Homo sapiens: one gene and its partners. The protein of the gene in region 1 purifies or fractionates together with the protein of each later gene. This does not show direct contact. Each region holds a gene or a part of one and is shown in the gene's direction. Other genes may lie near its edges. The genes, in order: BTN3A3, ODR4 and DPY19L1.

Region 1 (4,284 bases):
ATTGGCTTAAACAAAACAAGGGTTTTCTTGTTTTTTCTTGATGTTGTTGTTTGTTTTCATGTAAAATGAATTTAGATGGCGGTAGTCCAGGGCTGACCTGGCAGCTCAGAGATGTCATTCATGCCCCAGCCTGCTTCTGACTTCATTCTCTGCTGTCTCTGCATGTGGCTTTCAACCTCAAGGTTGCCTCATGGTTCTAAGAGGGCTGCCGCACCTCTAGTTCAAAAGTCTACATCCAAGACAAGAGGAAGAAGGAAGTACGGAGAGTGTACACTCACACTCCCAGCTATCTTGGCCTCCATTCTGAAGGATCTCTGGGAGAAACACAAGCCCACAACTTTACCTACAAACTATTGATTCCAACTTAGTCCCTTGTTCTCTGGTATCTATGAGATAGCAGAGCCTATTGAAGTACCCAAGAAAATTAGGCTTTATCACCAAGAAGAAAGGGGGACTGCATGATGCAGAAGGGACCAGCCATCTCAACCAGATACTGCACAGCCTAAATTCAAACTGTTACAATATAATCAAATTTCATCAACCCCAGTCACATCTTAATCTTAGGAGTTTTGATCACTGACTTGCAAATCCAAAAAGTGTGTTTTGAGGTCCTAGGCCACAGGAAGAACCAGTTTGTCTCACAGACCTCTTACAGAGATGGCATTTGTAGTCTATCTAGATTCCAGCTTCAGATAATATGTACTCCACTGGCAGCACGAGAAATAAATACACAGGAAAATACAATATAGCACAAACCAGGAGCTGAGGGCGAATGAAGATGCTCAGAAACACCTGCACTAAAAGTTTCCTGAAAAAGGTAAAAAATGTCAATCAGCACTGCCTCTGGAAACCAGAAACATTATATTATTTGATAACAGATCCTAAGTCTGGATGCTGGAGGTGCTTAAAAATGTGCATTGCGTCTGGCTTTCTTTCCATGTATACATTTATTTGACGCTGTAGTAAAATCTCCTCCTTCAGGTACCCATATTCATGCAAGCAAATGTTAGCAAACTGCCACAGTAGCATTTTAATTAGTGCACAACTTTCTCTCTTCACCACATTATAATCTTTTCTCATTTTGTTCTGCTGCTATTTCTATTATGATAAAAGACTTAAGTAAATATGTAGAAATACTTATATACATGGACACGCAATAATGATTCAAATAGATAAACACAGAAACACAAACACTAAGGGAGGTACGGCTGGAATTTTTCTGCAACGTGTACAATTCAATGTACTTTCACTTTTCATTTCAACCCTCCTCAGTGGTTTCCTCCCAGCAACTGATGAGAAACATCACCTCTGAGCCAATCAAAAAACTAATTCTTCCAAAAAGAGATTGTTATTATTCCTCACAATAACCAGATAGCCTCTGCTTTCTTTTTCCTTTCTTCGGAATGAGAGACTCAACCATAATAGAAAGAATGGAGAACTATTAACCACCATTCTTCAGTGGGCTGTGATTTTCAGAGGGGAATACTAAGAAGTAAGTGGGGAATGTTGATTAGAGCCTGGGCTACAATGCCTGGGAGGACAAGAGCTGAATCGCTGAGAGTGGTGAGTGGGCATGCAGGGAGAGTACTTGCCCAGGGAAAGGGGTGCAGTGCCTCTGTGTGTGTGTGTGTGTGTGTGTGTGTGTGTGTGTGTGTGTGTGCGTGTGTGCGCATGGGCACCCATGCACACATGTGGGCACATGGAGAAGAGGCAAGTAGTGCAAAGAATAAAGACCTGCAGATATTGGGATTTGGTGGAAGGAGAGGGAGACAACATAAATGAAGAAATATTCCAACTGCATGTTCTTAAGAACTTATTGTGGTCAGAAAAGGGCAAAAAAGTCGCTAAAATCTGTTTTGGCCAACACAAGCCATCTATTCTAAGAGATTCTAGAAAGAGATGTGCCTTATAGATTCATATGTAAATTTGTTCATTACAGAAATACTTATAATATAGAAAAATCTGAACCAGCATACACATACAACAGGCAGGGGGTAGACAAACAGTGCGTGGCTCTATCATAAAAGAGATTTCTATGCAGCTTTTAGGCATCATGTTTTTAATGAAGGGCAATTATTTCTCATTTTAACAGCATTAGATCCATACATTAAACCTTGTTTTGTATGTTTTAGGTACAGTATCTGTTTTTCCTTCCATTAATCATTTCCTCATAACCCAATATATGTGTTTCAATGGACACAATCTATTTCATTGTGTGAATATATAATTATTTTGTAATACTTTACTAATTTTGGCTATTTCAATTATCTACATTTGGCTACTGTATAGATTTTATTATATTTAACAACCTCAGACATAAATTTTTGTCTTAATTTCTGTCTTTTTTTTTTGCCTCAACAATAATTCCTATAAGTGGAACTTTTGGGTAAAGCATACAACTTTTTTTTTTAATAGCATTTCCTTGGTAGAGCATGTAACTTTTTAAAGATGCTTGCTGTATATATGACCAAAATGCTTTGAGAAATATTTATATTTCTACTACCAAAGTATATGATTACTACTACAGAGTTTTAATTTTATTGATTGACTAATTTGTAGAAATGGGGGTCTCATTATGTTACCCAGGCTGTTTTAAACCCCTGGGCTCAAGGAATCCTCCCACCTTGACCATCCAAATTGCTAAGATTGCAGGCATGAGCCACTGAACTTTTATTCCTTTATGCTTTTCTTCATTTGCAATATTGACTATAATCAGGAAGAAAATATAAACATCCTTTAAAAAGAATGAAAACATATGTCTCACTCTAAGCAGAGCAGAGAAATTGTTAACTTTGAAACCAGTGATAATAAAAATGATACCCCTTCTATAGCAACATAAAGAGAAGTTTTGAGGAACAGAAGATGTGAAATGCAATATTTAGTCTGGGTCAGTGCAAGATCCAGGCGAGGGTGGAGGATGGCCGGCTGCACAGACCTCTGTTCCGGTGCTTTCTCTTCATCCCTCCCCACCTCCCTCTGCAGACCTTGTTCTCAGAGGCCATTCCCAGACTCAGGTAGCTACAGCAGCGGGTGTTGTGGCTGCAGGCCTCATGCTCCTTTGCTTTGGAAGAAACTGTTGAGGAGTTAGTATTTACTGAGCAGCTTATATGTTCCAGTCAGTATTATCACTCATAATAATTACTGTTAAGTAATACATGAAAAATCTTAAATTTAAAGCATTTCAATATTTTAAAAGTAAAGGGAGCAAAAGGCCAACGTGTTCTTTTGCTCACTTAACTTCCGATCTTCAGTTTAGCATGCATCTTTTTAGACTTTTTCAGGCGTTTACATCTATAAATATGCAGAAATGTATAGCTTTGTTTTTGTTTTTCAGTTGAATCATTAGTGTAGTTCTGCAACATGCTTTTTGACCGCTTAGTGTATCACCATTATCTAGGTTCATGACAATAAATCAACTCTTTTTACCTGCTGCATTGAATTCCCTCTGAGGGATGAGCCGTAGTTCCTCTAAACAGTCTCCTGTTGGGTGGCTGGTTCAGTCGGTTACCACTTTTATACTTTAAAAACAGTGCTGCAGTGTCATTCTCACAGAGGCTTCTCTCTGCACTCATGCAAGTACTTTGCTAGACTAGACATCAGAAAGTGGAATTGCTGGACCCAATTGTGCACATTCGAAATTTCACACTTCATGATATTGTATGAATCAATAAAGTTCCAATGGTTTTGTCCCATGAACAAGATCACACAGCTTGTGAATCTTAGAGCCTTTACCTATTGCTTACCTTCTTTATGTCCTTAACACTAATATAGTAGGCCTCACCCATTGTGGGTGCTCAGTAAATACTTGTTGAATGACTTTATGAAGGGAAGAAAGAAAAGATGAGTAAGGCCTGGTCTTATTCAAAGCTCTCCTAATCAATATCTTTGTGATTAAACGTGGTGGGTTCAGCCCCTGACTGACTTCAGAGCCTCTGCCAGGCAGTCTGCCTGGATCCCACCAGGAGCCACCAGGCCATAAGTTGACTGTAGTAATGGCCAAGAGTTTGATGCTTGAGGAGTCCACAGTGTTGGACACCCACAGAGCTGAACAAGGGTGGGACCAGGGAATCCAGTGAAGAGGGTCCTTCATGAATCAGAGGGGGATGATGGAAGCTTGGACCTGGCAAGGGAAGTGTGGGGAAGTGATAGGATTATGAATATTTTAATATTTTAATGCAGTAGAGTCAGAGATGTCCTGATCAGATAACAGATATTATTTTTACAGATGGTTTTCCATACTGGAACCCAAAGGTAAAGACACTCAAGGACAGACATTTTTGGCAG
Region 2 (3,655 bases), on another chromosome or scaffold:
AACATCATTGACCAGATCCTAGAAAGTCTGAAATATCAATCTAAAATAAAACTTCATTTTATTTAGCTGATGGTGGGACGCCATTGAAAAAATATTTCAGTCTTTGATCTCCTGAGAAAAGGATTTATTTATTGATGTAGCTAAAGGATGTTGTTATCAGATAGTTTTATTTATAAAGTAGTTTTAAGGTGAAAAGCTAAGGACATGCTAAGCAGACAGTTTCTCAAACAGAAAGGATTGCATATAATGCCAATTTGTTAGCTAATAATATATTTCTATTTTTAGGTATCCAGAATGCTACCAGGGGGACTTTTAGTTCTTGGAGTATTTATTATTACTACTTTAGAACTGGCAAATGATTTTCAAAATGCCCTGCGTAGAGTAAGTTTGATATATCGAAAATTCTTAATGAAATCAGTTATATGTTATTTTTACTGATTATGAGTATGTGTAATGATTCTAGGCATATTTACATTTGTTTTCCATAATTCTTTTTGTTGGGGTTACATTGAAAAAGCTTTTGTCACTCAATTGCTTGGATATCTTGAGTGTAAAAAATGTTTATATTTTTAAAAACTACACATTTTATTTATTATTTTTTCCATGGGTAATTTTATTCTTTATTTAGTACACTACCCAAAACAGGGCTATCATCAGCCCATATGGCATTTCATACAAATTTGAAAAAGCTATTCTTTCCTCAAGTTAAAAAGTTAAATTATTTACTTCTCAATAATAACCATGACTAATGACAGTAATTCCATGTAAATTATGCAAACAAATAATTCATTGTAAAATATTGAAAAATTCAAATGATTAATTATAATATTAAGAACTCAAAGTCACTTGGATCTAATAATTTGTTGTAAAAAAGGCATCTTTGTGGAAGTAATTCTTTTTGACAGAAAAACTACATATTTTAAAATAATCTTTATTTTAGAGGTAATTTCTGACTATTAGGAAACAAATTATAATGCTTTAAACAGTTTTTCTTATGCAATAGCAGTATTCTGTCACACCTTCCATTTAGTACCTAGTGATTACTGTAACATGAAATTAATAGGTGCTGAAATTCTTTACCTTCTTCTCAATTCTCCGGAGATCCTGAGAGTAAAACATAAACAATCAGATTATTCCTGGACACAGTATCTATCAGAAATCTCCTGTGTTTTTTGCTTAATTGCTGCACCAGAGAATTGGGTAACATAGTGTAAAAGTAAATATGAAGGTCCACATGCTGTTTTCCCTTAAACCCAAACCTAAGGTAGATTCTGTGTAGCCAGCTCTTTTAGCATTCAGGATCCACATGAACTTTTTGAAGGGTATTTCATACCCCAAAAGAGGGGGAACCTTAAAATCTTGAGACATATAAAACCCAACCCCAACAGTATCCCAGAAAAACATTTTTTAGGTAAAAAATATACAGCTGAGAACTTCAGATGTTACAGATTTTTTCAGTCTTGTAACCTGTCCTGTCAGATGTCCCAGCCTCAAGCCTTTGATATTTGCACCTAAGGGAGTAAGGGAAGAAAATGGAGATATTCTCCTCCCTGCTAAATTGTTTAACCCTCTGCCAACTTTTCCATCTTAAATAAATTTACCTTGTTTACAATTGTTCATTCTCTTTGGCATTTTGAAATTTAACCGAAATCTATGCGTATTTAATATTAATAGCATTCATTGTGCAACCTTTTTTGGCTGGTGCTGAATTGAGGGGGTTGAATGTGGGCCCAGTGCTAGAGAGATACAGCCAGGCCCACTTTCCTTGCTTTTGTATCTTTTGTTCCTAAAAAGTATATAAAACTTTAGAAATGCTTTATCTCTGACATTACTGAGTTTCAATTATCTAATTGTTTCCACTGGCTACACTGACAAACACTACAAGAAACAGCCTTATAAAACTTGTCAGTGTCACCCATTATTGTTAAGGACTTTATTCATCATATTACATTAATATTGTGTTTCCGGAAGAATTTCTTTTTATATTATGAAGAAGGTTGTGCCTCCTCTGATGATTGTTTTTAGCTTACAGACCATGTGAATTAGGTTACAGATTAGATTTCTCTCTGCACATTATTGTTAGAAAGCTTAGACCGAAATGTATTACCACCCCTTACATCAAGTATGCATTTTTATAATTCTTATTTCTGACACAAATTTATCTCACTATTCTACTTTAACTTTCAATTTGTTATTACTATATTTTATATGTTGTTATATATTGCCTTAAGTCTTGTGTGACGTTTAAATAAGAAATGCTAAATGGGTGACATGCTTGATTTCTTTAGTTAAAATCACTTATCATTTCTCATTCTAATTAAAGTCTCTGTTCTATAGTTTATATAAATTCTAGTTGCCCCAAATTAATTTTTTGTGTCCAGTTAATCTCTAATGATAGTGAATTAAATTTTTTTATTTAAACCCAATTTTTCTGTAATTTCCTAAAAGGAATTCAAAAATGTTAGTAATTAGCTCCAGTCTTTAATTTGAAGAAAAGAAAAATTAATGGTGGCACACACCTGTAGTCCCAGTTACTTGGGAAGCTGAGGTGAGAGAATCACTTGAGCCCAGGTGTTCAAGGCCAGCTTGAGCAACATAGTGAGACCCCTTCTCCAATAAATAAAGAATCATGGAATTTTAAAGCTAAATGAGAGTTGGGGACATTATAATTGCCTATTTCAACACTCATCTTTTTTTTTCATTTTACATTCAATTAGTGTGTATTTTTCTCTCTTTCAGCTAATGTTTGCTGTGGAAAAGTCTATAAATAGAAAGAGATTGTGGAATTTCACAGAGGAGGAAGTCTCAGAACGAGTGACACTTCACATTTGTGCTTCTACAAAAAAGTATCTTTTGTTCAGTTTATGGTTTAAAAGTACAAAGTACCAAAATAATATTCTTGCAAGGTTTTTTTGCTATTTATTTAAATCATCATTTAAAAAATAGGCATAGTTTTGTAAGATTTTTCTGTAAATAACATGGAATTAGAGCCACCAATAATAATAATAGCAATAATGGTTGTTAATCATGTCCCAAGGTGATAAAAAGCTTGAGATCTGTAATATGAAAGACTCAGGATTCTGAATTTTTTACCAGCTATCTGCCCTGTACATCCAAGCACAGCAGATTCCCTACAGAGATAAATGCCTAACTGATGGCTTAGGCAAAGTAATGTTTTTATTATGTTAAAGTTTTCACCTCCAGTTTCTATAGATAAGGATGTACAATTCAAAGCACAGGTGCACAGAGCTGGATGGTATAGGACATCGGAGAAATTCTTATGTCTTTGGCTAAGATGAAATGACACTAAAAGCCAGTTACACGGCCTCTTACCAGGGCAAGAGTACCTCCCAAGCAAGGGTCATCCTCACCAAAGGAGTGACACGATCCATGGACTTCCAAAGACAGAATTTTAAAAGTGACCATTCCTGCAGAAGCAGGGCTTTTTTTTTTTTTAACAACAACAAAAAAAATCTTTAGTATTTAACTGCAAAGTTTCATATACAAGCCCTTTAATCCAATAAATAGTCTCAGGTTTGACCTCATATAAAACAGTGGTACTTTTTCTTATGGAGAGTGTATATTTGAGAAGAATCTCACGAGTGCTTTGATTCTATTTATTGCAATTAGCGGGATTCATAAAAGGTAGGAAATG
Region 3 (3,655 bases), on another chromosome or scaffold:
ATGTATAATAAAAAACATTTTATGAATATTAGCAGGAAAAAAATGTTTAACTCCCAGGAGAAACTTCATAAGAAATGCATATGTTAACAATACCTGTAGAATTTTTCTCAAGGACTATCGAAAAACAGTTTGAACAATTGAAGATATATGTTATGTATATATACACATACCTATATATACAACATATGTATATACCCACACCACATTTATGGATATGAAGGCTCTATATTGTAAACGTGTAAATTCTTCCCAAATTAATTTTATAAGTGAAAATCCAATTATAACCTCAGAGTGATTACCAAAGTAGAAGCATGGCAAGTCTTCAGTATGATAAAAGTTGCATTTACATTCAATGGGAGAAAAATAATTTATTCAGAAAATGATAGTTGAATCATTGTGAAAATAAAGACCAAATTTTATTATGTTAGGATTATTATTATTTTTTTTCTTTAGAGACAGGGTCTTGTTGTGTCATCCAGGCTAGAGTACAGTGGTGTGATCATAGCTGACTACAACCTCAACCTCTTGGACTCAAGCGATCCTCCCAGCTCAGCCTTCCTGAGTAGCTGGGACAATAGGCTCGTGCTTTGTAAAGACCTGATCTTGCTGTGTTACCCAGCCTAGATTTAAACTCCTGTCCTCAGCTGATCCCCCTACTTCCTCCAGCCGAGTAGCTGGGATTATAGTCATGAGCCTGGCAGATAAAGTTTTTAAAGACAGAAACTAAAAGGAAGCAAATGGTAGATTTGTTAATAAGAAAAAAATTTAAAATTTCAAAAGATCAATATATCTTATTAAAAAAAGTCAAATGACAAACTAAGTTAGATATTTGTAACTTCAATTATCTAGAAGTAACCATTCGTATTTCCAAGGCAAAATGGATTTTTAAATGAAAAAATATAACTGACTTTAAGAATAAAACAATAAGATCTGATCTATTTGGTTTTCATTTTTCTTTCCTTCTCTTCCTCCTTATTCTTCCTTCCTCCTCTCTTCTTCCTTCTTTCCTCTTCCTTCTCCTCCTCTTCTTCCTTCTTTCTTCTTCCTTCTCCTTCTCTTCTTCCTTCTTCTTCTTTCTTTTTCCTTCTTCTTCCTCCTACTTCTTCTTTTTCTCTTTCTTTTGTTTTTTTGAGAAACAGAGTCTCAGTATGTTGCCCAGGCTAGAGAGCAGTGGCTGTTAACAGTCATAGTCATAGCACACTGCTGCAGCCTTGAATTCCTGGGCTCGAGATGATGCTGCCTCTGCTTCCCCAGTAATGGATACTACAGGCATGTGCCACTGTATCTGGCCTGGGTTTCCTTTCTAGGAGTATTTTCATAGGTTGATTCCTTAGTTAAGAGTTATTTAATCAGAAGCCTGCCATCAGCTGTATCTTGTGAGATAAGAAAATTGAATGGTGTCTTCCAGGTTCATCTTAGTATGTTCTTTCTGCTTGGACAGATAGCAAGGTATTGATTTTCATATGAGACTGATTTTATTACTAGCTTGTTTTCTCTCTCTTACCTTTTCTTCTCCTTTACTCATTTCATTTTAAATTTGTTTAAAGACACGGGTTAATATTTGTCATAAAATTTCAGGCATTGCAGCAGTATATCAGAAGTGGTAGTTCCCTTTTTTCTTCCACCCCCAATCCTGTACCCCTCAGCCACCATATTTCTTTATTCTAAGTTATCCTTACCTGTTGATTCCATTCCTCTCTCAGTTCTATTAGCAATAGTTTCCATCTAATGGTTTCTGTCTATTAGCGGATATTAGGCCTTCATATATTTTGTTGAATGAGTGAGTGAGTGAAAATGGTGGCTGTATGCTTAATTCCCTTATGAGCTAGTCAATCACAATTTTAAACGTAGCCCTGGGACTTTTTTGAAGACCCAGTATTCTTTTTTACACATTTCAATATTTGACATGCTTTATCTTTGAAATGGCTTTTCTGTAAGATGAACATGTTTATGCTAAAATTCTAATTTAAATTTCTTTTTTCTTACAGCTGTTTTTGCAGCAGTGTTGCACTGGTAAGATTGTTTTTTTCTCCTATGGTATTTTATGCAGACGTTTATAACTTGCTAAAGCTATTTCCCATACATTTAAAGGAATAATTTCAGCATGATCAGTATGAATATATATTACATGTAACACAATAGTCTGAAAAACTAGTTTAATTGATAAATCAGGGTCAGAATAATATAATTGTTTAATAAAAAAGAGATTCATTATTAAAGAGGCTATATTTGAGACTCCACTCAACATTAATATGTTCATGGTGAGAGAGAGATTAATTTATTTAATCTTCTAGATAGAAATATGAATTTCATTAGATGTTTCTAAAATGGTAACCCAATGACATTTACAGTTTAATCTATACTTTTATTGTACTTCACTTAAAATATTCTGGTTCATTTTAATTTTAAAATCTAATTTGATTTTTTAGAGAGGGAAATTTTAGTATAAATGCAATACATACTGAGTGAAAAAAATATAGATACTATTGTATTTGAGTGTTATTACAAAATTATCTGCAAGTTAACTGATACTTTTATTTTTGCTTTTAGCTTACTTTAAAAAATAATACTTAGAGTGTAAGTTTTAACACTATTGCTTTGTTTTGTTTTTCCAGGAGCCATATAACACACCTCTTTGAAAATGACCGTCATTTTTCTCACCTCTCAACATTGGAAAGGGAGATGGCTTTTCGCACTGAAATGGTTAGTTTTTATTTGGGATTTCATCATAGTACTTTAGGAATTTAAAAACATTTAATATTTTTTATTATGGAAAATTTCAAGATGTTCCAAAGTAGAAAGAGTAGATGCTCCACCTTCTACAGCTGACAGCCACAGCCAGTTTTCCTTCATCTACACCCCCACTCACTATGTCTTTTTTATTTTTTATTTTTATTTATTAATTTTTTTTTCGAGACGGAGTCTCGCTCTGTCGCCCAGGCTGGAGTGCAGTGGCTCCATCTCGGCTCACTGCAAGCTGCACCTCCCAGGTTCACGCCATTCTCCTGCCTCAGCCTCCTGAGTAGCTGGGACTACAGGTGCCTGCCACCATGCCCGGCTAATTTTTTTTTTTTTTTTTTTTTGAGACGGAGTCTCGCTCTGTCGCCCAGGCCGGACTGCGGACTGCAGTGGCACAATCTCGGCTCACTGCAAGCTCCGCTTCCCGGGTTCACGCCATTCTCCTGCCTCAGCCTCCCCAGTAGCTGGGACTACAGGCGCCCGCCACCGCGCCCGGCTAATTTTTTGTATTTTTTTAGTAGAGACGGGGTTTCACCTTGTTAGCCAGGATGGTCTCGATCTCCTGACCTCATGATCCACCCGCCTCGGCCTCCCAAAGTGCTGGGATTACAGGCGTGAGCCACCGTGCCCGGCCAACTATCTCTTTTTAAAGGGAATCCCAGACATTATATCATTTCATGCTTTCATACTTTCATAAGTGTCTCTAAAGATAAGACTTTGTTTTAACTATGGCACAAAACCATGGCACAAGACATACTGGAAAACATTTAACAATATCCTTAATATAATCAAATAGAAATCAGTATTTAAATGCCCTGTTTGGCACTTTAAAAAAAAAAAAACAAAAAAACAGTTGATGTGTTTGAATAGGATCCAAACAGTGCCTACACATTGCATTTAGTTGATGTGTATCTTA

What was found.
Region 2: the proteins of BTN3A3 (region 1) and ODR4 purify together in Homo sapiens (affinity purification with mass spectrometry; one large-scale study listed by BioGRID and IntAct). This does not show direct contact.
Region 3: the proteins of BTN3A3 (region 1) and DPY19L1 purify together in Homo sapiens (affinity purification with mass spectrometry; one large-scale study listed by BioGRID and IntAct). This does not show direct contact.

What each region holds. Positions count from the first base shown.
Region 1 is NC_000006.12:26,439,157-26,443,440, forward strand, and holds the start of BTN3A3 (butyrophilin subfamily 3 member A3 isoform a precursor), read left to right. Parts: upstream 1-1,347; 5' UTR 1,348-1,492; intron 1,493-4,225; 5' UTR 4,226-4,284. UniProt on the Homo sapiens protein: Plays a role in T-cell responses in the adaptive immune response.
Region 2 is NC_000001.11:186,385,703-186,389,357, forward strand, and holds part of ODR4 (protein odr-4 homolog), read left to right. Parts: intron 1-285; coding exon 286-381; intron 382-2,739; coding exon 2,740-2,846; intron 2,847-3,655. UniProt on the Homo sapiens protein: May play a role in the trafficking of a subset of G-protein coupled receptors.
Region 3 is NC_000007.14:35,016,930-35,020,584, reverse strand, and holds part of DPY19L1 (protein C-mannosyl-transferase DPY19L1), read left to right. Parts: intron 1-1,988; coding exon 1,989-2,013; intron 2,014-2,615; coding exon 2,616-2,703; intron 2,704-3,655. UniProt on the Homo sapiens protein: C-mannosyltransferase that mediates the C-mannosylation tryptophan residues on target proteins.